7 linked regions of the Homo sapiens genome follow. The protein of the gene in region 1 purifies or fractionates together with the protein of each later gene. This does not show direct contact. Each region holds a gene or a part of one and is shown in the gene's direction. Other genes may lie near its edges. The genes, in order: RPF1, PUM3, CAPG, ZNF324, ZBTB11, RPF2 and PDLIM2.

What was found.
Region 2: the proteins of RPF1 (region 1) and PUM3 fractionate together in Homo sapiens (co-fractionation; one large-scale study listed by BioGRID). This does not show direct contact.
Region 3: the proteins of RPF1 (region 1) and CAPG purify together in Homo sapiens (co-immunoprecipitation; one large-scale study listed by IntAct). This does not show direct contact.
Region 4: the proteins of RPF1 (region 1) and ZNF324 purify together in Homo sapiens (affinity purification with mass spectrometry; 2 studies listed by BioGRID and IntAct, with this or other methods). This does not show direct contact.
Region 5: the proteins of RPF1 (region 1) and ZBTB11 purify together in Homo sapiens (affinity purification with mass spectrometry; 2 studies listed by BioGRID and IntAct, with this or other methods). This does not show direct contact.
Region 6: the proteins of RPF1 (region 1) and RPF2 fractionate together in Homo sapiens (co-fractionation; one large-scale study listed by BioGRID). This does not show direct contact.
Region 7: the proteins of RPF1 (region 1) and PDLIM2 purify together in Homo sapiens (co-immunoprecipitation; one large-scale study listed by IntAct). This does not show direct contact.

Annotation. Positions count from the first base shown.
Region 1 is NC_000001.11:84,492,650-84,496,493, forward strand, and holds part of RPF1 (ribosome production factor 1), read left to right. Parts: intron 1-2,723; coding exon 2,724-2,806; intron 2,807-3,232; coding exon 3,233-3,414; intron 3,415-3,594; coding exon 3,595-3,721; intron 3,722-3,844.
Region 2 is NC_000009.12:2,805,996-2,809,839, reverse strand, and holds part of PUM3 (pumilio homolog 3), read left to right. Parts: intron 1-1,935; coding exon 1,936-2,026; intron 2,027-3,844. UniProt on the Homo sapiens protein: Inhibits the poly(ADP-ribosyl)ation activity of PARP1 and the degradation of PARP1 by CASP3 following genotoxic stress. Binds to double-stranded RNA or DNA without sequence specificity. Involved in development of the eye and of primordial germ cells.
Region 3 is NC_000002.12:85,397,096-85,400,496, reverse strand, and holds part of CAPG (macrophage-capping protein), read left to right. Parts: intron 1-1,211; coding exon 1,212-1,361; intron 1,362-1,714; coding exon 1,715-1,807; intron 1,808-2,344; coding exon 2,345-2,477; intron 2,478-3,401. UniProt on the Homo sapiens protein: Calcium-sensitive protein which reversibly blocks the barbed ends of actin filaments but does not sever preformed actin filaments. May play an important role in macrophage function.
Region 4 is NC_000019.10:58,465,715-58,470,162, forward strand, and holds the start of ZNF324 (zinc finger protein 324A), read left to right. Parts: upstream 1-1,365; 5' UTR 1,366-1,469; exon of another isoform or gene 1,470-2,464; coding exon of another isoform or gene 2,465-2,473; intron 2,474-3,465; coding exon of another isoform or gene 3,466-3,471; coding exon 3,472-3,592; intron 3,593-4,013; coding exon 4,014-4,130; intron 4,131-4,448. UniProt on the Homo sapiens protein: May be involved in transcriptional regulation. May be involved in regulation of cell proliferation.
Region 5 is NC_000003.12:101,653,020-101,656,863, reverse strand, and holds part of ZBTB11 (zinc finger and BTB domain-containing protein 11), read left to right. Parts: intron 1-615; coding exon 616-760; intron 761-2,042; coding exon 2,043-2,160; intron 2,161-3,844. UniProt on the Homo sapiens protein: May be involved in transcriptional regulation.
Region 6 is NC_000006.12:111,012,750-111,016,593, forward strand, and holds part of RPF2 (ribosome production factor 2 homolog), read left to right. Parts: exon of another isoform or gene 1-839; intron 840-3,004; coding exon 3,005-3,107; intron 3,108-3,844. UniProt on the Homo sapiens protein: Involved in ribosomal large subunit assembly. May regulate the localization of the 5S RNP/5S ribonucleoprotein particle to the nucleolus.
Region 7 is NC_000008.11:22,579,045-22,583,449, forward strand, and holds the start of PDLIM2 (PDZ and LIM domain protein 2), read left to right. Parts: upstream 1-1,430; 5' UTR 1,431-1,558; coding exon of another isoform or gene 1,559-1,560; coding exon 1,561-1,653; intron 1,654-2,334; coding exon 2,335-2,486; intron 2,487-4,405. UniProt on the Homo sapiens protein: Probable adapter protein located at the actin cytoskeleton that promotes cell attachment. Necessary for the migratory capacity of epithelial cells. Overexpression enhances cell adhesion to collagen and fibronectin and suppresses anchorage independent growth.

The DNA of each region.
Region 1 (3,844 bases):
GTGAGAAGCATGTAAACTTTATCTGTACAGACCTACATCCTCTATTCATTATTTCTAAATGGGGAACTACTGTTATTTGAGGTAGGGTAATTATTTGTGCTACACTCTTGGCAGCTTCCAAGATGGTTTGCATTCCTGGCCTTTGGATTCTAAATGCCAGTAACACCTCAGTCATACTGACAAACAAAATGCCTCTGTACATTTCCAAATGTGAGCAGCTGTCAGCAGGGGGCTTAAGCTAGGTGCAGTCCCACCGTGGTTGAGATCTGCAGTTGCCTTAGTCTGATTTACTTAGGCTAATTTACTTGACCCTCTTCAGCCTCTTTTCCTCATTACTGAAATAGGCATGATGACTCCTGTTTTATGTGATTTGTGTTAGGGATTAGCAGTAATGTAAATAAAGCCTCTTGCACAATGCAGGTACATGGGAAAAGAAGTTATTTAGAAACTGGTAAGTTTGGGTTTTGTACTTGGCTTTTGACACAGACCACAATTTAGTGGGAATGTTCTAGAAAGGATTTAAGCCTTGATTTGGGCGTTGGAAGAAATGACTTTTATATCTCCTAGACCCCTTAATAAATACTTTTGGCTGTATTTCATGAAGTTTAGCCTGTGGTGAATCTTTTAAAATGATAGAATTCAAACGTTTGCTGATAATCTGATGCATGGTAGGCACTACTATCAAAAAAAAAAAAAAAAAAAAGATCTGCCTGCAGTCCCAGCACTTTGGGAGGCTAAGGCAGGTGGATCGCTTGAGACCAGCCTGGGCAACATGGCAAAACCCTTTCTCTACAAAAATTAGCTGGGCATGATGCCTGTAGTCCCATTTACTTGGGAGGTTGAGGTGGGAGGATTGCTTGAGCCCGAGAGGTTGAGGCTGCAGTGACCCATGGTCGTGCCATTGCACTTCAGCCTGGGCTGCTGAGTGAGACCGTCTCAAAAAAAAAAAACAAAAGAAAAAAATTCCCATCCCTACCTAAGTTTTAACAGATTAGTTGGGAAGAAAGGTGTTTTCCTAACTCAAAAAGTGATGAGTGCTGTGGTAGCAGAACTGAGAAGATTTAGATCTTAATTCTGACTACATAAAAAGGTGACATTTGAAGTAGACCATAATAGATGAGTAAAACGTTGCAGGTATTCAAAATAGCAGAAGCAAAAAATGCATGCTAGGATTCACATATATAGTACATAAGACTGTGAGTACCTACCAGTTAGGAAACAGGCTTGATGTGGGCATAGGGTAAATAGGTTGAAAAGGTAATTTGTGGCCACATTATGAGTCTGATACTAATGTCTTTTTTCTGTAGATGAGTCTGTGATGAGAGTAGTATGAAATTAGCTACAGCTGTCAAGACTGTGAAGGTATCTAGTTTGTTTTTCACTTAGCATGTGAGAAACTATGGTACAGATATAATGAAACAGCTGAGTCCCATAGCTGGTTACTTATAGAACCAAGGCCTAAGTCCAGACTTGATTTTACAATCTGCATTAGGAGATGTACTTGAGATGGTGAGAAAAAGGTCAGACCAACCACAATACTACCTTAATAATCTAGGTGGAAAATCTTGAGGACCTCACTAAGACAGTAAGGGTAAAGAGGATGCTAAGTGAGAACTTCTGAAGGTAAAAGCAGTTAAGATTTGGTGGGAGAGGGAGAAGCTGAAGATACCATAGCTTCTAATCTGGAGGAATGAGTGTTGATGCCATTGTAAAAAGATGGCAACATCTGCTTTGAAAGATACATATTAAATGCAGATAGACTTGAAACCATCTGATTCTGGCCTATTTAAGTTGTTGAATCAGATGAAATGTGTTTGAAAATTTCTCCTAAACTAGAAAAGCATAATACAAAGTGAAAGCCCTGTCCATTGTCATTAATATGCCTGCTTGTAATGCCATTAAGCAATAGCCAAGAATTACTCATGAAAAGTAAAGGTGTTTCAAGTGAAGGTCAGATTGTGCCACAAACTTGAAGAATATTATATAGGTAGCAACCTTAGTTTGCAGCACCCAGGACTTCTAGAGTCCTTGGGCTGCTAGTCCTGCTGGTTGTAGGTAGGTGATCTCACATTTCATTTGTAGTTTAGCATGTCTAGCATAATTCTCAGTTCATGGGAAATGACAGTCAGTGAATGGCTATTAATTGGTTTGTTGATTATAATTTGGGGTACAGTAATCCTAAGTAAGGGGTGATCTCTTGCAAAATACTAATAACCTTAATTTCATAGAGGAAAGTTTAGGAGTCTGGTCTCATGGGATGTTATTCAAAGTTGACAGCATATCGTGACCATACAAATGTATAAAAGTGACATTTTGGGGTTATACATCTTTAGAACGTGGAGGTAAACTCATACTCTATTTGCAGTGTTACATGATTATAGAATCACATCCTATTTTACTCCTAAGAGTAGTGGTCAATTAAATAGCTTTTTTTCACCTACTTTAGTTTAGGGTACCTTAAGATACCCTATTGAGCGTGATTAACTATTATATTGTAAAAAGAGAAAAAAAGGACTACTCTAGGTTAGTCTATATTCTTGAAAGATTTTGACTGATTTTGAGCTTTTGATATGGTAGGAAAATGTCACTTCAGAGGAATATGTACATCTGCCTATTCACTTGGGTACAGATTTTAGGGGCCTTTGGATGTAGAGGACCAGTTATTTAAACAATTAGATTTAGATTACAGAGTTCAATGTGTTTTTCTTAACTTTTATGAACAGATGGACTTATTTTGAGTCACTTGCCAAATGGCCCAACTGCTCATTTTAAAATGAGCAGTGTTCGTCTTCGTAAAGAAATTAAGGTAAGTTTTATACATTTCTTTGATTGGCATTGATCTCTTCACAATATTTATTTGATCAATAGATGCTGTATCTTATAGCTCTAATTTATTTTAATAATGGCATTTGTTCTCCTGATTAGAGCAGTTTTTAATCTATCAATTCTCTTGGGAGACTGTGGTTAAGTTACAGCCGGCAGGCAATAGTCTTCATTACTATGAAGCACGTTGATTTTCTAATAGGATTTTTTTGTTGTTGCATTCAGTGCATATTAAAATAATTTTAGATACATCTTATTTCATGGGTTTGATAAGCCATCTGTGGTAGTTTGTCACTAAAAAATACATTTTGCAAATTTGTCATGTAAATTTTGATACTTGAAATTGCATTGGGACGTATTGCCAATTAGCTTAGCCCATTGTGATATTTATTTTTCATTATTTTTCTAGAGAAGAGGCAAGGACCCCACAGAACACATACCTGAAATAATTCTGAATAATTTTACAACACGGCTGGGTCATTCAATTGGACGTATGTTTGCATCTCTCTTTCCTCATAATCCTCAATTTATCGGAAGGCAGGTTGCCACATTCCACAATCAACGGGATTACATATTCTTCAGATTTCACAGGTGAGGAAGGTAAACTCATTGAACTTTGATTTCAATTATGAAATATATTTTCAACATGAACTAATTTTCCAACATATTGTAGCAAGTATCATACAAGATAAAATGAATTATCTTTTGAACCCTGTCATAATGTTAAACAATAGCTCATTCAGACTAATTTAACTCTTTTTGTCTTTGAAGATACATATTCAGGAGTGAAAAGAAAGTGGGAATTCAGGAACTTGGACCACGTTTTACCTTAAAATTAAGGTCTCTTCAGAAAGGAACCTTTGATTCTAAATATGGAGAGTATGAATGGGTCCATAAGGTATGTGCTTATTGTTTAAAAAGACTAAGTCATTTTTAAAGTATGGGATAAGAGGGTGGGAGGAGAGAGAGCATCAGGAATAGCTAATGGATGCTGGGCTTAATACCTAGGTGATGAAATGAT
Region 2 (3,844 bases), on another chromosome or scaffold:
AGCCAGTCTTTGGCGCTTTCTGGTTTTTTGTAAGCCTTACAGCTGCTCTGTAGAAACTCAGCTCTCTAGAGAAGGACAGCATTAGCATTTGCATGCCATTCCCCTCTCAGTCCTATCTCCAACCAGACCTTCACTTACAAAATCCAAATTCCATCTGGTATTTAAACCACTGGAGAGATTTTTTTCCCCTACTGAGTTAAAACAGTTTGGGCTTTTCATTACAATGTCTGGAAAAAAGTGACAGATCATGAATTCATGTCTTGCGGCAAGTGGCAGCTCTGATGGCTAGTGTGGCAATCAGTATAGCAGTAGAGCTGTCACTTCTCACCTTACCTTTAAGAATGGGGACCTGGGGCTATTTTTCACTAAATTTTTTTGTAAAAGAGAAGCCTTGTGATAAATATTAAAGAAAAAAATAACATATGGAATAATCTTTTTCATTATTAAAAAGTTGATGTATAGTTGAGTTTATGCCAGAAAAGTAGTCTGGCTTAATGTCCAGTGGTTTTTCTCCCTCTTAATTAAAATGTGCTGAGAACCCTAAAATCTGCCAGTTTGGGTCTGATGTGTTTGTCTTGTCGTATTCAGCACCAAATGAGTTTGTCCTCCTGCACGTCTAGCTGTTTTGATTCTCTTTTACTGGATAGTAGCCACCTTAAAACTTAGTAGTTTTCAAAACAATGACTTGATCAGGGTCTGGTGGAGCCTGCCCCTCTATGCTCAGAGTCAGAGTCATCTAGGGCTGCTCGGTTTGTGGTTGGAGTGTCCACTTTTCGCTTAGCTCACTCACATGGCTGGCAAGTGAGTACTGACTGTTGGCTGGGGACCAACAGCCTCAGTTTCCCTTTCTAGGCTGCTTGGGCTCCTTCACGAGATGGTGGTTGCTTTTTTAAGAGTGAGCATCCCAAGAGGACAAAGTAAATGCGTGGCACTTCCATGATTTATCCTTAGCAGTCATTTAATGCCACTTTCATCATACTGTCTTGGTCAAGTCAATCACAGAGGCCCACTGTGATTCAAAAGAAGACATGGATTCCCCCTATAGATGGGGGAGTGGCTGCATTCTAGAAGAGCACACAGGACAGGAGATATTATTGTGGTCAGCTTTGGAAAACAATTTGCCTCACTAGCTGAACTCTGTCCCTCTTTAGCAGGTACCATGAAAGGCTGAATAGCCATAGGCCTCTTGGCTTTTAAAGAGTCCTTACATTCAGGTATCTTTGAATGAATTATATAGTACATGCTACCTGACTATGATGTTTGCCTTCAAGATAGGTTGTCCCTACCTCCATCTGCACTAAATCTTAGCTATCAGAATTTCTCCTTTGTCCAAGCATTAATTGCAAAGTGAAAAAGATAATACCACGACCTTGGGAATCAAATACTAGAATAACGGGAGAAAAATGGTATTTTTGATTTGTGAGTATGTAAGCGTTGTAAAGAGAAATGCCAAGTTTAAGCTAGAACAGTCATTTATCAACCACTGTTGAACACGTGAACACTGTGTTATGTTCATGGCACCTTGTGAGTGAGCATTTCTCCATGAGGAAGAACTTGATTTCAACCAAGCATGAGGTGCTACTGTGAAACATTTATTTCCTGAATAGCTTTCAGGTCAAAGTTAAATCATTAAATAATACAAAGAAGTGCAGACATAACCAAGTGAGTGTTTTATTAGAATTCATAGTTTATCTTGAGTAATTACTGCTAAACATAGCTTAGGTTTTGGATCAGAGTTAAAAGAAATGGCTCTTTTAGAAATGCATTAGATAAACCTGCACTGGAATTTTTTGTGTTAAAAGGGAGATTGGGTGAAAGCTACTTTTGTTAGCTTTTTTGTTTAAAAATATTTGCAGATTTAAGGGCAGTAGAGAAGGGGGTAGGGAGTATATATCTTATTATGTGATGTTCACTAAGCTTCAGTATATTTTACAGGTTGTTTTGCAAAAACACTTGTAGAGCATGTTGGTATGAAGAACCTGAAGTCCTGGGCTAGTGTAAATCGAGGTGCCATTATTCTTTCTAGGTATGTATAACATGTGCCCTTCTCTGAGCAGGGCCTGGTCATGCAAAAGACACACTTCCTTCACGTTGATTTCTCAGTTCTAATATTTGTTCTCAGTAGTCTAATATTACTCCCAGTCACTCATGGTCTAGACAAACATACCAAATATTAGAAAGCAAATGTAACTCTTTCAGTCAGTCCTTAGGAATCTTTTTTTTTTTTTTTTTTTTTTTTGAGATGGAGTCTCACTGTCACCCAGGCTGGAGTGCAGTGTCACGATCTCAGCTCACTGCAGCCTCAACCTCCTGGGCTCAAGTTTTCCTCCCATCTCAGCCTCCTGTGTAGCTGAGACTACAGACGCATGCCACCACACCCAACTAATTTTTATTTTTTTATTTTTTGTAGAGATGGGGGTCTCCCTGTGTTGGCCAGGCTGATCTCAGACTCTTAGGCTCAAGTAGTCCTCCCATCTTGACCTCCGAAAGTGCTGGGATTACAGGCATAGCCATTGTGCTTGGCCCTTAGGATTTTTAAACTACCATCTTTTTGACAAATTATAACATTCACAAGGTATCAGGTGGCTTCACCACATTTATGGTTTTGACCAAAACATAATTTTTTTTTTTTGAGATGGAGTCTCACACTGTCGCCCAGGCTGGAGTGCAGTGGTGCGATCTCAGCTCACTGCAAGCTCTGCCTCCTGGGTTCATGCCATTCTCCTGCCTCAGCCTCCTGAGTAGCTGGAACGGCAGGTGCCCGCCACCACGCCCAGCTAATTTTTTTTATTTTTAGTAGAGACCTGGTTTCACCGTGTTAGCCAGGATGGTCTCGATCTCCTGACCTCGTGATCTGCCCACCTCGGGCTCCCAAAGTGCTGGGATTACAGGCATGAGCCACTGTGCCCAGCCTGTATTTTTTTTAATGAATAACTTACATCCCTGTGAAAACTGTGACAATGTTGACTTTTAAATCATGCCTAATTCTACATGTAATTTCCTTCATTGTTTTAAAAGATTGTAAAAGGATTGGAAGAGCATTTGCTACTGAAGTGTGTGTGCTATTTGTTGATATCTGACTTAAAATGAGAAAAAAACAGTGATGAGCTATGGCCTCTTTTGTATTATTCTCTGAACTTAGTTGAGTTTATAATCAATCCACAAATCATTGAAATTTTCCATACATTCTCTGTGCAGATGAAAACCTTCTGTTAAGAGCATTCATTTAAAAAAAGATTTGTATGTTGCTTTGAAGCAATTACTGTTGATTTTTCCCCTGCTGTGTTATTAAGGTTTGGGAAAACAGATACCAACCCTAGTTTGAATTTCTCAAGATACTTTACTTGCAACATGCTATGCAACTTAATCTATGTTGTTTGTAAATGTTATTTTAAGTGTTTCTTCAACATATACGTGATCTGGTACACATAATACTCACACAGGAGCATTCATAGCTTCAGGTATGTCAGTGTCTCCAAATATATAAGTGTTACAGATCATTTTGTTCATTTCTGCTTAAAATTAGTTAATTTTCCAGTTGATGTTAAACAGTCAGAATTCGTTAGCTGATACATGAACTTTTTCATTACAAATTTTTTTACCAGGCATTTGGAGTGTTAACACCTACTGACACATTCTTTCATTACACTCAATTAACTGGAAATTTCAGCAATGCCATGAAATTAATTTATAAAGGTTGTTCATCAATCAGAACTCCCATTAGGTGGATTTCAAACATAGGAAGGATACTATAGGTTTATTATGGAGCACTACTCAGAATTGGAACAGGAGCAGAGGAAATATTTGAAGTTCTAAATGGAAGTTGAGCTATATATAACAATAA
Region 3 (3,401 bases), on another chromosome or scaffold:
AAGGTGAGCCCTAGGTCATGAGGAGATTGGCTGGCTGAGGAGTATGGGCTGCGTCTTGTGGCGCTGAAGATTTGGGGCAGGGAGATCAATCCAGGAGCTCTTGGTGAGGACTACACGTGCTGAGACAAGGAAGGGGACAGGTGAACAGACCTCGCCATTACCAGAAAAGGAGAGGTGACAGGGGCTCTGCCTGGCAGGGCGGTGGGTAGAAGTGTGAGATGCTGCGCTCAAGGAGCCATTCAGCCATTCACCCATCCAGTCCTTCACTCAGTCAGTCAATATTTATTTTGCGCCTAAATCCATGCCGGGCTCTGTTTTAGCAGTGGGCCCACAGTGGTGAGCAAAGCCAAACAAAACCTTCATGTCCTAATGAAGCTCACTTTCTAGTAGGTGGAGATAGGTGGTTAAGAGACGTTTAAACATAGGAGATATGTGATGGGAAGAAAAATAAAGAGGTGCTGGGCGTGGCTGCTCACGCCTGTAATCCCAGCACTTTGGGAGGCCGAGGTGGGCAGATCACCTGAGGTCGGGAGTTCGAGACCAGCCTGACCAACATGGAGAAACCCCATCTCTACTAAAAATATAAAATTAGCCGGGCCTGGTGGCACATGCCTGTAATCCCAGCTACTCGGCAGGCTGATGCAGGAGGATCTCTTGAACCCAGGAGGTGGAGGTTGCGGTGAGCTGAGATTGTACCATTGCACTCCAGCCTGGGCAACAAGAGCGAAACTCCATCTCAAAAAAAAAAAAAAAAAAGAAAAAGAAAGAGGCTTGAGCCCAGCGGTTTGTAACCAGCCTGGGCAACATAGTGGGACCCCATTTCTACAAAAAATTAAGAAATTAGCCAGGCATGGTGGCAAGTGCTTATAGTCTCAGCTGCTTAGAAGCTAAGGTGCAACGATTGCTTGAGCCCATGACGTCAAGGCTGCAGTGAGCCATGATCACGTCTTTGCACTCCAGCCTGGATGACAGAGTGAGACCCTGTCTCGAAAAAAAGAAAGGAAGACAGATGGCAGGTGGGCAGAGAAACAGTTGCAGTGGGTGGTCGTGGGCATTTTCAGAGAGCCCTCTGTGCTGTGCTCTGCCTTCCTGGTTGTCCTGCCTCAGGGACAGTTCAGAGAGGAGAGAGGGAGAGCTGTGCGCCCTTCTCTGAGCTGGGGAGCAGGACACAGGCATCTGGCTCTGACCCGGACTTTCCTGCTTCCTTGCAGAACATCTTCGCCTGGTGTGGTGGAAAGTCCAACATCCTGGAACGCAACAAGGCGAGGGACCTGGCCCTGGCCATCCGGGACAGTGAGCGACAGGGCAAGGCCCAGGTGGAGATTGTCACTGATGGGGAGGAGCCTGCTGAGATGATCCAGGTTGGGGGACATTGGAGTGGGTGGCTGGGAGCCTCTGCTTGAAAGTGGCCAAGAGAGGTGGTGATGAGCTGAGGGCTGAGAGTGGCCGGTGGAGGGTGGCAGGGGCCATCTGGTGTACTGCCTAGGGCTGTGGCCAGCTCACAGGGTGCCCCTCTGGGTAGATGCTCGTCCTCGAGGCTGAGCAGCCTGGCTGGTGGGGTGGGCTGGACTCAGCCCTCACTCACCTCACCTCTGCTGGGTGCCCTAGTGCAGGGCGCAGTTTGCCCCACCAGAAGCAGTGGCCCTGGGCATGATGGGCTGGGAAGTTCCAGGGCAGGGGTCCCTATAAACCTGGCCTGCCCTGGCCCCTGCAGGTCCTGGGCCCCAAGCCTGCTCTGAAGGAGGGCAACCCTGAGGAAGACCTCACAGCTGACAAGGCAAATGCCCAGGCCGCAGCTCTGTATAAGGTGGGCCCCCCAAGCCTGCCCTGGGACCCGGCAGCAGGGAGGGTGGGAGCCTGCACAGCACAGCTGCATGCAAGCAGGGTGGAGGGGAGAAGGCAGGGGGAAGGTGGGGCTGGAACCGAGGTGGGAGGTGGGGAGTTATACAGGGCTGGGAGTGAGACAAGGATGGGGAGTGGGCGGAAGGCAGGCCCTCCTGAGGAGATGAGTGCACCTCACTTCCAGCCTATGCTTGGTGAAGGCTTGAAGCCAATGCTGAGCTTTTCTTTCTTGAATTCTGTGCATTTCTTTGTAATTTGGAATCCACCTAATTTCCAAATGGGTTCGGGGCCCCTGTGCTGCAGGGATTGGGGTGATGAGAGGGAGTGGGGCTGCCTGGAATTTGCTTTTCAGGTCTTCACTCTCTTGTCTGCTCCTGGGACCTGGGCAGTGGGCAGCGAGGCACAGTGGGAGGGACCTAGGGAGGACCAGCCTCCCCCTCCTCAGGCTGAGGTGAGGGCTGGTGTGTGGGGGGTGAGATCAGGCACTGTCCCTCCTCCCCAGGTCTCTGATGCCACTGGACAGATGAACCTGACCAAGGTGGCTGACTCCAGCCCATTTGCCCTTGAACTGCTGATATCTGATGACTGCTTTGTGCTGGACAACGGGCTCTGTGGCAAGATCTATATCTGGAAGGGTACGTGGCTCCTCTGTAACAGCCTGAGATGCCTGTAGCTGCTCTGACCCGGGCAGGCTTCCCTTTGCAGGACTCAGCCTGTCTAGCTGCTTGTAAAAGACAGCCTCAGGAAGCCTGCATGCTTCTGGCTGACCATTTTCTCTCTTTAAAAATTTTTTTTAAAAGATAGAGATGGGTTCTTTCTATGTTGCCCAGGATGGTATCAAACTCTCAGCCTCCAGTGATCTTCACCTTGGCCTCCCAAAGTGCTGGGATTACAGGCGTGAGCCATGGCATAGGCCTTGCTATTTTCTTTCTTTCTTTCTTTCTTTCTTTTTGAGAAGGAATCTTGCTCTGTTACCCAGGCTGGAGTGCAGTGGCACGATCTTGGCTCACTGCAACCTCTGCCTCCTGGGTTCAAGCAATTCTCCTGCCTTAGCCTCCCGAGTAGCTGGGAGTACAGGTGCGTGCCACCACACCTGGCTAATTTTTGTATTTTTAGTAGAGATGGGGTTTCACTACCAGGCTGGTCTCGAACTTCTGACCTCAAGTGATGCACCGGCCTCGGCCTCCCAAAGTGCTGGGATTACAGATGTGAGCCACTGCCTCGCCATTTTCTCTTTGCTGTTCCCACCTCCTAAATTCTAGACAATGGCTCTGAAACTACAGCAAGCCTCAGAATCACCCCACGGCCTGTTTAGATGGCTGGGCTCCACCCCCATAGATTCTGATTCACTAGGTCTGGAGTGGGGCAGAACATGCATCTCTAACAAGGTTATGGGTTATGTCTGTGCTGCTGGTTCCAGGGATCACACTTTGAGAACCACTGCCCTAGCCCAGCTCTAGACCTTTGGGGCTTCTGGGACCCCTGATCCTGGGATTCTGTCTCAAGGTTTGACAGAAATGAATTTTAGACAAATTAAACATCATTTTATGCAGTGAGTG
Region 4 (4,448 bases), on another chromosome or scaffold:
CTCAGATTCCAGGTGTGAGCCACTGCGCCCAGTCCTGAAATGTTCTTAAATTCTTTCAAAGTAGCAAAATTTATATTAAAACATTCCAAACATGATGAGCTCCCTTGCTCTACAAGGATTTACAAGTAGAATCAATTAGGTGGACAGTTATAGCTGACAGTTGACAGAGAGATAGTTATAGATGGAGGTAGGTATAGAGGGAGGGAGGCAAAAAGAGTTAAGGAACTGGACAGCTGAGAACTGTCTACAGGTTCCAAAAACAAGACAAAGAACCTTTTATTATCTGCCAAACAAGACAGTCTACATTGAGACTGCTCTGCCTTTCGTTTTTATGTGTCAAAGACACTTAAATTGGCCTGTAATCCCAGCACTTTGGGAGAACGAGGTGGGCGGATCACCTGAGGTCAGGAGTTCAAGACCAGCCTGGCCAACATGGTGAAACTCCATCTCTACTAAAAAATACAAAAATTAGCCAGGCATGGTGGCGCACACCTGTGGTCCCAGCTACTACGGAGGCTGAGGCGGGGGGATCACTTGAACCTGAAGGCAGAGGTTGCAGTGAGCCGAGATTGTGCCACTGCACTCCAGCACGGGCAACAGAACAAAGACCCTGTTAAAAAAAAAAAAAAAAAACTTAAATGAGTCCCAAGAAAAAAGGAAAAAAGAATGAATATTGTGATGTGTGGGGCAAGACAAGATCTAGATGGTCTAAGGACAAGCAAATCTGGGGAATTAACTTCTGCCCATCCAAATTACAAGGAAAACAGATGCTTTGGGCAAGTGTCGAGGAACAGTCTCATACTTAAGACAAATGTAGGCTTACGGGCTGAGAATTCTTGGTGTAAAGGTTGAAAACGGACCTTAAACCTTTACGGGACATTGACACAGAGAGGTCAAACCCGCGCCCAGGACGCACAGTCAGTGAGAGGCAGAGCTGGGAAGGGAACCCGGAGCTCCAGGCATCGGCTCCTCCACCTCCACCTGCGCTACCCGGTGCATTTTCTCCTCCGTGCTCACTGCTGGTGTTGCCTCTTGGAACCTCGGCAGTTTCTGCTTTCGCACCTGCAGGGTTTAGTCTCCGGGACTGCTTGGGAGGACACCTGGAATGCCGAAGGCAGGACTACACACCGGGCGAATCCACCAGCGCCACCAAGCCCTTGAAAACCCGAGGCCGCCGCGCGACTCCATTTCCCAGCGCCCCGCGCGGCAGGGGCTTGGACGTTGCCAAGGAGACCGGTAGTGGCCCCGCCTCCACGCAGGGAAACAGGCGGGAACCACGTGACCCGGAAGGCTGTACGCAAGCGTCCGCGGCGCGCACTGGGCCAATGAGAACCGAAGGGCTGGACTTCCGGCGGTGGGACTGTCACTTCGCCGCCCGCGTCAGGCCACACCGGTGGTCTGGGCTGGGGACCGCGGGTCGGGTCCGGTTTCCAGGGGGTTCCTGGTGCTCGAGGCTGGCGGCGAGGAAGGTACTGGCTGAGGGCCCGCGTCGGGCCCGCCCTGCGCACGCGTCGTGATCAAGGGCGCCGGCCGCCGGCCGCGCCCCCAAGCCTCTGTTTCTCAGAGTGCGTCGTGGGCGTCCAGGGGACTGTCGGGCCGCGGCGGGAGCCATGCGCTCTCCCACCGTGCGGCAGCCCAGGAGGCTGCGCGCTGGGCGTTCCACGTCCATGATGGCCGGGGAGACTGAGGCGCGGGGCGGCCCCGGGACGCTGCTGGCGGGGAAAGGCTGGGTGGTCCACGCCTTTCTTCCCTCCCAGCTGCGGGTTCCGCTGGCGGCGGTGGCGCTGACAAGCCCGCGTCGGGGAAGCAGGGGAGTCCCTGCTCACACAGACCGCGCCCTCACGGAGGGAGGCCGCTTCCTAGACCTCGCCTAGTCGTCTTTCCTCTCCCTGCCCTGGGGGGGTTGCGGGGGTCAGTGCAAACTCCTGCGTCCAGGGCACTGGTGAGCTCCCGAGTTCGGGCAGCCAGGGGGCTGAGGTCCCGAAGGAGGCTCCGAGGGGAGAGTCCTGCGTGTGCAAAACCTGGGAGGGGAGCCGAAGCCCAGGTGCTTCTGGGACTGAGCTCTCTCGATGTGGAGCTGGAGTAGAGGGGATGTGTGCGGCTGCAGTATCAGGCGAGGGAGTGGGCTTTATCTCGAGGGCGTCGGGAGACATAGAAGTTTTGAACAGAATCAGGACATCCTCTGAGGACTTTAAAACGGTTCCACCGTTTGTTGCGTGGAGAACAGACATGCAGGGGTGTCGGCATGAAGGGAAGAACCGACTGCCACAGTCTGGGCAGCAGTGGAGGTGGGCGACCAGGTGAATTCTGGTGGATCTGCGGATGCATCAGGTGTGGGCTGTTTGAAGAACTAAGTACCCCATGTTGTTCAGCCTGAGCGCCTGGAAGAAGAGAGCTGCTGTAGATAGAAAGGAGAATTGAAAGGAAAGCAGGTTTCCTTCAGGGGAAAGATCAAGAGTCTGGGATGTCCCAGGTTGGTCATGTCACTGGACCTGACGTTGTTGGCGTCCTGGGCTGTGGACAGGGCCTATGAATTGGACTGAGGAATGGGCAGGGACTCAGCCAGGTGTGGGCAGTTATGGCTTGAGGGTAAAGAAGACCAGCTGGGATGCCTGGGGCTATTGGGAAGAGCCTAGCACCTAACTGAGGAGGGGAGGGTGGCAACAGAGAGGGGAAGAAAGGGGACACCGGGTGAAAGGAGGAAGGGATTGAGTTCCTCTGTGTTCACAGGTTGTTGAGGCTGCTCCCCTGTGGCGACTGGTGAGAATCATCCAGTCCCTCAGGCTGGATGAGCAGCCTGGAAATGTCAGGCAAGCAGGCTCAGCAGGGGAGGGTCCCAGTGATGGGTATGCCTGGGAAGCCCCTGCTGGGACTCACAGTTTCTTGCTACAAGAGCAGGAAGGGTGCATCTGGGGAGGGTCATGAGTGGTCATGCTGAGTCACGAGTGGACACCTGGGGCTGCTCTTGGTGTGGCAGCTGAGGGCCCAGCCAGGACTTGTTCTAGCTTGCTTGTGTATGGCGTTGCCAGTGGGGAGGCCAAGAAGGCATCTGGGGTCTGGTCAGGGAGGGCAGAGGGGAGGGGTCCCAGACATGTGAGGGAAGTGCCATCTGAAGATGGTGGGGGCAGAACCCAGGGAAGGAGGGTGAGTGTCTGAGGGACATCATGGAAGGTGGCTGTTGGGATGGGGAGCTTGGTCCTGGCTCACAGCCATACCTTAAACTAAGCTTGTCCAACCCACTGCCCAGGATGGCTTTGAATGCAGCCCAAAACAAGTTCGTGAACTTTCTTAAAACATGAGATGTTTATGCAATTTTTATTTTTTTTAGCTCATCAGCTGTTATTAGTGTTAATGTATTTTATGTGTTGCCCAAGACAATTCTTCTTCCAATGTGGCCCAGGGAAGCCAAAAGATTGGATAACCCAGCCTTAGACCATGGCTGTCTCTTCCTCCCTGCTCTTTTAGGACCAGATGGCCTTTGAGGATGTGGCTGTGTACTTCTCCCAGGAGGAGTGGGGGCTCCTGGACACAGCCCAGAGGGCCCTGTACCGCCGCGTGATGCTAGACAACTTCGCACTTGTGGCCTCGCTGGGTAAGGTCCTAGATACTCCATGAAATGGGCAACTGATAACAAGCTGACTGGCCAGGGCTGCCCCCTCACCTCCCTGGTGGCTGACGAGCAGGCCTATACCTTGCAGCCAGGAGCCATGTGGAATAGGGGTCTGGTCCTATAGACATGCAGTCTGGTTGGCTCAACCACTCCCTGTGGCGCTGTCCGGCTGTGGCCTCTCCGAGCCTTGGCTCAGTCCCCTTCCTTTGGTGCCCTGGGCACAGTTGCTGCCCTGGGGATGAATGAGCTATTCCTGTGAGCCCCTTGCCCTGTGCCATCTTTAGATTCTGCAGTTGCACAGATGACATTTTCTGTTTCCGTGAAGCCCTGACTCCTGCCCTCTGTTTGGAGGTGGGTTATCTTGAGCTGGGGCTGGACTCTAACCTGCACCTCCTCCTCACAGGACTCTCCACCTCTCGACCTCGTGTGGTCATCCAACTGGAGCGTGGCGAGGAGCCCTGGGTTCCCAGTGGAACGGACACAACCCTGTCCAGGACCACCTACAGGAGGCGCAACCCTGGTGAGAGGGAGCTCAGGGTGGGGTGAATTCAGGACCAACCTGTGGTCATGCCTCTGTCCCTGGTTCCCAGACTCCCCAGAAGCACCCTCCTCCCCTCCCTCCCACCCGATTCCCTTCCCTTCCATCATCAGCCCCTCCTGGAGGCTGCAGCCTTAGCTGCCCTTGAAGGTGGAGCTCCAAGGGCACAGGAGCGGGGTTGACACAGAAGGGCACTCAGGCTATGGTGAGACCATCTCAGAGTCCTGCTATCAGCTGGGCTGGCCTCAAACCCTCCATGGCTAGTCACTGCCATAATTGATGGGTCATTTTTTTCACCCT
Region 5 (3,844 bases), on another chromosome or scaffold:
CCACACCCGGCCATAAATTTAAATACCAAGTATTAGTTGGGCCTCTGGTCTTCCCATGTGGCACTACTCAATATGTGTGGTCTGTGGACAATAAGTACAGAAATAGAGAGTAAGCATGTAGAAACTGTCATAGCAATTTGGCATTGTCACGTCATTTTTAACAAAAATTTTTGTGTTTAACAAAAATTTCTCCCAGTGGATTGTGGAAAAGGAAAAAAAAATAATTAGTTCTTCATCACAGTTTGAAAAGCACTGTTCTAGTTGGTGTAGCAGGAAATGGTATATTGTTCTTGATTAAACTTCCATGTCTCTTAATATAAGGTATACTGTTTACCAGTCTCAAAGATAGCATGAGGTTTGTCTGATTTTTACTATTTTGAGAATCTCTGGTGATCACATGGATTTAAGAAAGATAACAATATTTGTTGAATACTGAATCAGAAGAGGGGTCAACTTTCAAGTTGGTTTCAACTTTCACTTTGTCATTATGTTTTATTGTAAATTAAATAATTTAAATATTTATTTAAAATAATATATTCATTTTCTCTGTCTTCATTGTTCAGAAACAATCTCCCTTTTTGTTTTATTGACTTAATCACCCCTGTTCTATCTTAGGTCTGTGGAAAGACTTTTATCTATAAGCATGGTCTAAAATTACATCAGAGTCTTCATCAATCACAGAAGCAGTTCCAGTGTGAACTGTGTGTTAAGTCATTTGTTACCAAACGGAGTCTTCAAGAACATATGAGTATTCACACAGGTAATGAGAAATTTATATTGACATAGTTACATTTCATAAACTATTAATGATTATGCTTTAATTATACCAGAAATTATATTGATAAACTGATAGTCGTGTGTGCTCAATTTTGTATTGAGACAGTATTTTAAATTAAAAGTGCAGGCTGGGCGCGGTGGCTCACGCCTGTAATCCCCAGCACTTTGGGAGGCCGAGGCAGGCAGATCATGAGGTCAGGAGATTGAGACCATCCTGGCTAACACGGTGAAACCGTTTCTCTACTAAAAAGACAAAACATTAGCCGGGCATGGTGGCAGGCGCCTGTAGTCCTAGCTGCTCGGGAGGCTGAGGCAGGAGAATGGCGTGAACCCGGGAGGCGGAGGTTGCTGTGAGCCAAGATCGCGCCACTGCACTCCAGCCTGGGCGACAGAGCAAGAATCCGTCTCAAAAAAAAAAAAAAGCGTTTTCTCAGATCTGGTTTTACAGCTATGTTTGTGTATGGAATATTCATTGTTTCCCTCAGTGTAGAAAAATGTGTACTAAGTGTTAAAATCATGCATAATTTAAATCCAGTCATAAAGAAATGATCATGCTTTTAAAAAGTTAAATGGTAGGGAGACATAATGTCAACATAGTAGTTGGCTTATATTTTTTTGTCCATACATACTTATTTTTAGATGTTTTAAAGCAAAAATGTGGGAATAGCCAATGAAGGGTAGATACCTGCTGCAACTTGTATTCAACTCTAGTACTATTACAATCCATAGATCATACAACCGTATCACATGACTAGGGTCATACCCTCTGATAGTACTATGGTTGTTGACAGGAAATGGGGATTTTGACATGGGTTATTGTTAATCTTAGATGTCTGCCAAATGTTATAGCTTCCATGTCCCCTTGGTAAAGTAACTTCTGAAATATGACATGAAGAATTCTGTTTATTAAAGGCCAGGCGTGGTGGCTCATGCCTGTAATCCCAGCACTTTGAGAGGCCAAGGCGGGTAGATCACAAGGTCATGACATCGAGACGCTCCTGGCTAACATGGTGAAACCCGTCTCTACTAAAAATACAAAAAATTAGCTGGGTGTGGTGGCACGTGCCTATAGTCCCAGCTACTCGGGAAGCTGAGGCAGGAGAATCACTTGAACCTGGGAGGTGGAGTTTGCGATGAGCCGAGATCACGCCACTGCACTCCATCCAACCTGGGCAACAGAGTGAGATGCCACTCAAAAAAAAAAAATTCTGTTAAAAGAGGACTGATTGCTGGATATGTGACAGGGTTTTAATTTTTTCTAATAGGAGAGTCCAAGTACCTTTGCTCAGTTTGTGGAAAGTCTTTTCATAGGGGCTCTGGACTCAGCAAGCACTTCAAGAAACACCAACCAAAGCCTGAGGTTCGAGGCTATCATTGTACTCAGTAAGTATTCAATATGTGAGGCATTCAGTTAATTTAATTATGTTTTTACTCAGTTTTCAAAAAAATATTTGAAGATAATATTAAACTGTAACTTCAGTTTACTCTTGATTTTAATGTCCTTTTTTTCTTGCTTAAGGGTTACTATTTTTAACATCTTCGAGATGTAAATCATTTACCATACAAATCACTCATTTAAAGTGATTTCAGATTTTCAAATGTACTACCTGGAAGTGGGGACTGTGGGAAAGAAGAGTCTCACTGCCAGCCAGTTTCTTTCCCCCCCTCTTCTTCATTTTCCAGATCCTCCTAAAATAAAATCTCTGTTACAATCGAGGTAAAATTCATATAACGTAAAATTAATCGGGACAGGCACAACAGCTCAAGCCTGTAATCCCAGCAGTTTGGGAGGCCAAGGCGGGCAGATCATCTGAAGTCAGAAGTTCGAGACCAGCCTGGCCAACGTGGCAAAACCCCATCTCTACTAAGAATACCAAAATCAGCCGGTTGTGGTGGTTCACACCTGTAGTCCCAGCTACTTGGGAGGCTGAGGCAGGAGAATCACTTGAACCCTGGAGGTGGGAGGTTGCAGTGAGCCAAGATCACACCACTGCACTCCATCCTGGGTGACAGAGTGAGTCTCCGCCTCAAAAAAAAAAAAAAGTCATTTTAGGGTGGTAGTGTGGGCGCAGTGGCTCATGCCTGTAATTCCAGCACTTTTGGAGACAGGTGGGAGGATCGCTTAAGGCCAGGAGTTCAAAACTAGTCTGGGCAGGCAGCATAGCAAGACCCTGTCTCTTAGGAAACAAAAGCCAGGAAGCTCTCTCTTTTGCTTTTCTTTTAACTTTTAGGTTCAGGGGTACATCAGAAAGCTCTCTTACAGGGATTCGACAATTTTTTTTCTTTGTTAAACATTTGCCTAGTCACTATAAGCTTTTCATTAGTTTTTAGAGTTCCTGGTAAGGTTGATTCTAACAGTTTGCCAGTTTGTCCTCTACTTTCGTGGAGAGATGGGCTTTTGGAGCTTCCTACTTGATGTATTTGTTGATGTTACTCTAATTAGTCTTATTTTGAAACAAAGATAGTTTGTTATCAATACATTTTTAGTTATTAATGAAAGTACACCCAACCCAAACAGGCTTGAATTAAATATAAAGTCTAGGAGTCTGGGTGGTTTAATGTAAACTGGATTCAAATTCATTAGCACTTGTTTTCTCTGAGGCACCATATGGACAAGACAATGGCAGTGGTTTCAGTCTCATATCCTCTCAAATTCCAAATTGTCAAACTTCTTTTCTGGTAGTTCCATCAAAGCCCTGAGAGTTACTCCATTTACATCAAGTTAAGTCAGTCATCCCTGAGTCAATCACTATGGCCAAGGGAATGCTTTGTTGTGATTAATTTAGGCCCAAGTCATTTGCTCTATCCCTAGGGTCAAAGGTAAAGTCTACCCTCAACACATGGACTAAGAATGAGAGGGTTGAAATAGGGATCTCAAAGTGGGGTAATTTAGGAGAGAGAATAGTAAATTTCCTCTGTAATAACCTTTGGGAACTATGCACGATTCTTTCTAAAACATTTCTAGTAGTCTTAAGATGAAAAGAACCTAAAACCCTGTAGCCTTTATGTAAGATTAGAAAATTAGGGAATTCTTTTAAGTTGAGATCATCTTTTGGAGTTCTAAAAA
Region 6 (3,844 bases), on another chromosome or scaffold:
ACCTCCGCATCAGCTGTTCAAGCGATTCTTCTGCCCCAGCCTCCTGAGTAGCTGGGATTACAGGCATTCACCACCATGCCTGGATAATTTTTGTATTTTTTGTAGAGACAGAGTTTCGCCATGTTCGCTAAGCTGGTCTCAAGCTCCTGGCCTCAGGTGATCCACTCATCTTGGCCTCCCAAAGTGCTGGGATTACAGGCATGAGCCACCGTGCCCAGCCATGCTTTTATTTATACAGTATTATTATACTTTAGGTTATCAAGTTCATAAAGTTATTTATCATACTTCTTGGTCAAAATCCTAACAGTGTATATACCACTTGCATGACGTCTTTCCCAACTAGAAATGATCTTTCTCTCCTCAGAACTTCCAGAATGGTTTATACTGTTCTCCTTTTAATGTGCTACTTTAAATTGCAGTTGTTTGTATGTATTCATATCTACCTAGAATGCAGGGCCCCTGATAGAAAAATGCTATATGTCATTTATCACTTTGCATAATAGGTGCTCTGGTACAATTTATTAAGTGAATGGATTCTTGCCAATGGTATTCATGTGTAAACAATACTCTGTTGTGTTCTAGCCAGAAAATATCATGCTGTTAGACATATTTGCTTTCCGGTTACTAAGTACTACCATTTATGCCCTCCCGTTTTCATTCATTACTTGTTTGTGTTACCTTGATGATTTGCAAACTTTAGTGAAATTTCAGTTTGGCAGTTAAGAGAAAATGTTGTAATAAAAGGATGGCTGGTTAGAACTATTGGATACAGACTGAAAATCCTTTTATATTCATAGTCTTAGAAATTTTGACTTAATAAAGAGTACTTTTCCATGTGCTTATTGTGTTCCTAAAGTTTTCTCCCAAAGCACAGATGTCCTGAAAATTTTGCATTATGAAAGTTGTTTCAGAGCAGACTGGAATGTACATATTTCGTTTCCCAGAAGTACTCTGACTTCAGTAATGCCACACCAATGAGTGAGCTTTATTAACTTGGCCACTGAAGGAGAGTCAGGCTTTGGCAAAATCATGGGAAAGCTCTTTATTATGATATTTAGATTAAAATATCTTGAAAAGTACAAACTTGTTTTATAAAAATGTCCCAGGCCAGGCGTGGTGGCTCAAACCTGTAATCCCAGCACTTTGAGAGACCAAGGCAGGAGGAGTGCTTGAGTCTAGGAGTTCGAAACCAGCCTGGGCAACATAGTGAGACCCCATCCGTACATAATATATGTATAAATATATGTAGTATATGTACTTTTTTTAAATTAAAAATGTTCATTAGTTTTTTTTTTTTCTTGTTTGGGGGAGTAGAGGAGGGTGGTGTATAAATGTGCCTGCCCACTTGTGTTTGTTTTATACAAGTTAATGCTGTGTTTTTTGTTTTTTGGGTTTTTTTTTTTTTGAGACTGAGTCTCACACTGTCGCCCAGGCTGGAGTACAGTGGCGCAATCTCGGCTCACTGCAATCTCCGCCTCCCAGGTTCAAGTGATTCTCCTGCCTCAGCCTCCCAAGTAGCTAGGGAGGCACTTGCCACCACACCTGGCTAATTTTTTGTGGTTTTAGTAGAGATAGGGTTTCACTGTGTTAGCCCCTATGGTCTTGATCTCCTGACCTCATGATCTGCTCGCCTCGGCCTCCCAAAGTGCTGGGATTACAGGCATGAGCCACTGCACCTGGCCTGTGATTTTCTTTTGGTTAAGCACAAGAAAGGAAAAGCAGACAACAAAAGATGCGTTCATCTGTGCACATGGAGATAATCTGCATCTTATGGGCTAATGGGAAGCAGGAAGGAAAATGCTAGGTGGCTACAGAATGGGACTAGAACAGAATTTCCCACTTACTACATCACCTGCCTTGGGCAGCTCTTCCTAAGCAAACTTGGATAAACTTTTATATAGACCTTTTATCTTAGCCAAATGTTATTCATGAATTTCCATTTAGCCTCCTTGAGGTTCGATTTTCTCAGCTGTAAAATTAAGATATCACACTTGTTTTCCAAACTTCTTTCATAGCCAAGTCTGTGTAGTATCCTTAGCGTGCAGTTCACTGGAGATTTTCTTTTAATTGACTCCTCTTTTTAAGTTATTGTTTGAGACAGGGTTTTGCTCTGTCGTTCTCACTGAGTCCAGTGGTGGGATCAGCAATCCTCCCACCTTAGCCTCTCCAGTAGCTGGGACTACAACCTGGCTAATTTTTTATACTTTTAGTGGAGATGAGGTTTCACCATGTTGCCCAGCCTGGCCTCAAACTCCTGAGCTTAAGCAATTCGCCCGCCTCAGTCTCCCAAAGTGCTGGGATGACAGGCATGAGCCACTGTGCATGGCTGACTACTCTTTTTAAAAGGAAATTTTATGTCCCTATTGTAAATGGAGAATGGTACAGGATAAAATAAATACGTAGTAAATTATATCTGGCTTTGTATCATTAAAATGCTCTCATGTGCCACCGGTGGTATGATTACCACTTTGTGAGAAAAAAGACTATCACTGATATGCAAGGTTCTTTTCTGGCATTAACAGTTTATAAAGTTTCTTATCCTTTGTTCATATAATCAAGATTTCTTATTAGAGTTTTTTTCTTGTTGGCCTCCCTCATAGAAAAAAAAATTAAGGCTAATTTGATTTTAATAGTCAATTTGAACAGCCATTTTTATAGAAATTTGCTATCTTCATCTACCAGTAGATTAAAATTTTATGCTTTGATTTACATTTTTTAAAAGTTAGTATTTTTAATGGATATGATTTTTTGATGCTGAGCTGACTCAGAGGAAGAACTTCAAAACAGAAACATTAAATGTCTCAGTGAACTGAACACCAAAATACCAAAATAAAGTCATGAGATTAAATGCTTAAGGGGTGGGACCTTCAGACATTTTTCAGGAATCATTTTTTGTGCTTTTTTAGATAAGTATTGGAGCAAAACTGTTTAGAGTGCAGTTCTTTGTAACTGAATTTTGCAAGTATTTGTTTTGTTTTGTTAATAATTTAATATGTGCTTTTAGATTTCTTCAGAGGCCCCACAGTATCAAATATCCGCCTGGCTGGATTAGAGTATGTTCTGCACTTCACTGCACTGAATGGGAAGATTTACTTTCGAAGCTATAAGTAAGTGCATTTCTTCACATATTTTCTTAATCCTCAGGGTTAGTGTTTAAAACTGTGTGACTGTTTTTTAGAGCCCAAACTTAGAATTGGTATCTGGCCAAAAGGTTTCTTGGAGAGTTGGCAGGATAGCAGTGACAGCAGCTCTGTGCTGATCCTCAGTCCTTTGCCTCTGAAACCCTACTTTTCCAGTGCCCCAGAGCATCTGATGCTGCACTGTCGCTGAGCCAGGTGCACCAACCCTTCCTAGCTTTATGCAGCATCTCTTTATTGTTCTTGGTTGGATTTACAGCACTAAGCCACAAATCCTTGGCTAGGCAAAGCAAATCTCAAAACCCTAAGTCTTAACAATTGAGTCTAAAAGGAATAAGAAGATTCAGTGGCTAGATTCATTTCACTCTGTCTCTCTAGCCTAGGCCTTCTACCCCTACCACAATATAAATATAAATCTTAAGCAGGCCGAGCATGGTGGCTCACACCTGTAATCTCAGCACTTTGGGAGGCTGAGGCAGGCAGATCACTTGAGGCCAGGAGTTCAAAACCAGCCTGGCCAACATGACGAAACCCCATCTCTACTAAAAAAAACCAGAAAAATTAGCCCAGCGTGGTGGCACATGCCTGTAGTTCCAGCTGCTCAGAAGGCTGAGGCACAAAAATCGCTTGAACCTGGGAGGTGGAAGTTGCAGTGAGCCATGATTGTGCCACTGCACTCCAGCCTGGGCAACAGAGTGAGGGCGCTG
Region 7 (4,405 bases), on another chromosome or scaffold:
CTTCTCGGGCTAGGGGCGGCGGCAGGGGCGGCCCCGGGATCACATGGGCGGAGGCAGGTCCGGGAGCCCCGGGCGGGCTCTCCCCAGAGTCGGGTAGACGGCAGCGGGAGCGGTGGCGTCTCCCCGCCTTCCCTCCCTCCCGGGCCTGGGCGCCCAGCCGGACAGGTGAGCGGCAGCCAGGTGAGCGCGCCCACCTGCGCCTCTCCGCGCGGCCCGCCCTCCCCGGCGCCGGGCTCCTCTCCGCGCCCCTGTCGGCGCGGAACCCTGGCCTCGTCCGCGGCCCAGCTCCCTGGAGCCTCGCATCAGCGGGGGCGCCCCCGCGAGCTGCGCTCTCCCCGGCCGGAGCGCTCCTCCTCCAGCCCCCAGCCCGCAGGGTACTTTGCCCTCGGAGCGAAGGAGGCTCCAGAACTGGTAGAGCCGGGCCATCGGGCTGGGCACCTCCCCGCGGCGCCCGCAGCGCGGAGTCCACTGACCGGCTCAAAGGTCTGGGAATCTCGGGGCGGCCGCGAGCCGGCCTCGGGGACTGGGGTGGGGGCGGTGCTGGGAACAGAGGCTAGGCCTGGGCCCAAGGGGAAGGCAGCCGGGGATGGAGCGGACAGACCGCTGGTGCTCTTGATAGATTCTCGCAGCACTTGCGTCCCCAGGGCAGCCCCAGGATGGGTGCTGGGCAGGGTGGTGCCCAGCCTGGCACCGCGGCTTCCTGCCTGGATTGGCTCCTGGCTCCAGAGCTAGAGGCTCAGGAAATCCCACAGGGGTCTGTCTGCAAGGGCACTTCCTTGCCCAGCGGAGGGGCTGTGGATGGGAGGCCTGTCACCCCGGCTGTCTGTCGGGCAGCATCAGGAATCTGGGGGTGGGTGTGTCCAGCTTGACAGATGAACCCTGGCCTCCTTGCCCTGGCAGCCGGCCCCTGGGGGAGGTGGGGAGCCCGGTCTTGCCCGTGTGATCCACTTTGCCAAGAACGAGGTGGGCAGCTAGGAGGCCCATGTGAAGACTCGGCCTCACCCCACCAGTCCTTCACCTGGCCAGTGACTTACACAGTCTGTACTGGTGCCAGCCTGTTCCTTGACCCGTCACTCCTGCTTCCTGAGCCCTGCTCTCCCTAGGCCACTCACCAGCCCTCCCCCAGAGTGGAGAGGAAGTACCGTGTGCTGTGGGTTTTGGGGACAGGAAGCAAGCGCTAGTGGGACTGAGCCCTGATGGTGGAGGAGGGGAGACTGAGGGGGTGCTGGCATCCCCTCCACTTGCCAGCCCCTGCCCCCCATGCTCCAGCAAGCCCCCTGCCTGGCAGCCTGGGCAGCCCCCTCCTGGGAGTCGCTCCCTGGGCTGAAGACTAAGGAAGGGAGAACCCAGAAGCATGGCTTCCCAGGGTGGGGGGAAGTGAAACCGGGCTGAGGGAGGGAGTTAGCCACTTCCTCTACCCACCCCAAAGCCCCTGAGTAGCTGCTCCGGGAGCTGTGGTGCCCTCTCCTTCTCCCTTTGGCTCCTCTCCTGCTGCCTTACAGTGCCCCCAGAGCCGGCTAGGGGCATGGACTTCACCTCCTGGTCCTCTCTTCCTCAGGTATGGCGTTGACGGTGGATGTGGCCGGGCCAGCGCCCTGGGGCTTCCGTATCACAGGGGGCAGGGATTTCCACACGCCCATCATGGTGACTAAGGTAAGGATGGTGGCTCAAAGAGATGAGAAGGTCCTGCCAGAAGCGAGGTCGGCCCTGTTCACCCCACTCTGCACAGATGGCTTGCTTTTTCTGTTCTGGAGCTAGGGATCTGCTGCTGCCTGGCGTGCTGGCTGTAAGGGAGCCGTGGCCCTTTGCCACGGGGATGTGGTGGCCACTTCAGGAACAGACCTTGGGAGTGAAAGGGAGCTGGGACCAGGACAGGGCCGGCTCTTGCCTCCCCAGTTGCTATCCCCACACTTGCAGGCAGCCATTTGGGGTGATTACTAGAACAAGAGCCCCGGAGTTCTTGGCAGTCTCCTCTTGACCTGGGCCCAGGCTGGGAACATTCACAGGAGGGCTGTGCAGGCAGCCACCTGCAAGGTGCGATTTGCACGGGCAAGGCTCTCTATCCAAAAGTATTTCCAAGCACAGTTCCTGAAATTCTGCCACTGCACATTCTTTGGGAGGCCCATTAGAATGCCAGTGTGGGGTGGGGGCTGCCACCTGCGCTCCTGGAGGGGATGGCTGATCAGCTGGGTGTCATGAGCAGGCAGAGGGACATGCAGGAGGGTGCAGGCCGGCCTGGGTCAAGCCAGCCTCTGTGTTTCTTGGGTAGCAGAGTGGGAAGTCCCTTCTCCAGCTGGGCCACGGTCTGAGCATGCCAGCTCCTCATCCCTACAGGTGGCCGAGCGGGGCAAAGCCAAGGACGCTGACCTCCGGCCTGGAGACATAATCGTGGCCATCAACGGGGAAAGCGCGGAGGGCATGCTGCATGCCGAGGCCCAGAGCAAGATCCGCCAGAGCCCCTCGCCCCTGCGGCTGCAGCTGGACCGGTAGGGCCTCCCGCTCTGCAGAGCCTGTGGCATTCCCCCTCCTCCACCACCCCACGTATTGAGCAGCCCTTGCTCCTGCCCATGGGCTAGAGCTCAGCCCTAAAGCGGCCTTCTTGGGCCCTCTCCACACCTTGGTGAGAAGGTCCTGGGCTCTGCTTCCTGCAGCAGGGTGGGCTGAGGGGTGTTCCCATGCCTGGTTGGGTAAAGGTGGGCGCCAGGCTGGGCGTGCAGTCACAGGCTGGGCAGGGCGAGCTGGCACCAGCCACCTTGAAGCCCGGGTTTGACTGGTTCCCAAGAGTGTGCAGGGCACAGGGCGTGGGCATGAAGTGGGTTGAAGAGGGGAACCTTCTGGGAAAGGTATGCCCGAGGCTGCATCCCCAGGACTCCTGCTTCCAACAGGGCATGGCCTTTGTTTAGTTCCCAGCTGGAAGTGAGGACTTGGGGGGCTCATTCCTCATAGAGGCTGTCTGTTCCTCCCCATCACTGAAGGCAGATGCCCGATCCTGGGTTACTCCTAGGGTTTTGAGCCTATAAGCCAAGGTGGGGCCAGGGTGGGGCCTGGAGGCCAAGCTATAGGGGGAACAGGTGGCTCCCTGGGGTGGGGCATTGCAGTGAGTCACAGATCGGGAATGCCAGGAGATCCCCGAGCCAGGAGAGCCCTCTGCACGGGCCTAGAACCTGAGTCAGACACCTCTTGCATCCTGGCCACCCCCACATTGTCCTGCTCTCTTCAGCCCTACCAAGCCCCTCCTTCTCCAACTGCCCTGCCCTGTGGTGTGGCAGAAGCCGGCTCCCTTCATGTCATTCAGGTCCCTGGGTGTTTGCAGGAGCGGGACCCCAAGAAGGAGGGTAGAGAGCACCTCATGGCATCTGGGAATGGGGCAGAAAGCTACAGGAGGCTGAGGGTCTGGCAGCGGAAGGGCAGGAGCCTCGGACTGTCTCTTCCTCTGGGGTTCTCTGGAGGGACCAGGGCTCGGGGGAGGTAGGCCTGGGCTGTAAGTCAGGCCTCTGGTTCTGCACCAGGCAAGCCCAGACTCCAGTCTCTTAATTTTTTTTTTTTTTTTTTTTTTGAGACAGAGTCTCGCTCTGTTGCCAGGCTGGAGTGCAGTAGCGTGATCTCGGCTCACTGCCACCTCTGCCTCCCGGGTTCAAGAGAGTCTCCTGACTCAGCCTCCTGAGTACCTGGGACTACAGGCGCGTGCCACCACGCCCAGCTAATTTTTGTATTTTTAGTAGAGATGGGGTTTCACCACGTTGGCCAGGATGGTCTCGATCTCCTGACCTCGTGATCCACTTGCCTCAGCCTCCCAAAGTGCTGGGATTACAGGTATTACACCGCGCCCGGCCCAGTCTCCTTACTTTTGCTGACGTGATGCCCACCCCCCCCCCCGCCCCCATCTCCCGCCTCCTACCCTCCCAGGTGACCTCTCTGGTATTCAGAAGCCCTGGGGCAGGAAGCAGGGCTCCAGGCTGGAGCCAGAGACTGAGCTCTCCTCACCCTGATCCCATGGCTCTCCCAGGAAGCGGAGGGTCCTGTTGCCCTACATCTCTAGAGGCAGCCTCACGGCCAGGAATGTGTGGCAAGATGGGACGAGGCAGGCTGTCCCTCAGCCCAGACTTCAGTTACCTCCCATTCAGGGCTCCAGCTGGGTTCCACTTTGGAAGAGGGTACCCAGGGAGCTGGGAGGGCGTGCCCCTCTCGCTGGTGGGGAGCTGGGCCTACTTGTCTGGAAGGAGGCAGGCGGGTCTCGCCCTTTGTTTAACTGGGGAGACCCCTGAGAAAGGGATCAGGAGTGACGCGCTCAAAGGCACCCTGGCCTCCAGTGGGCAGGGTGCACAGCTGGCCCAGTCACCGTGGGCTCTAGAACTTGAGGCAGCTCACTTTCCCTCTCTGGGTTTCAGTTTCTCCATGGGTTAAA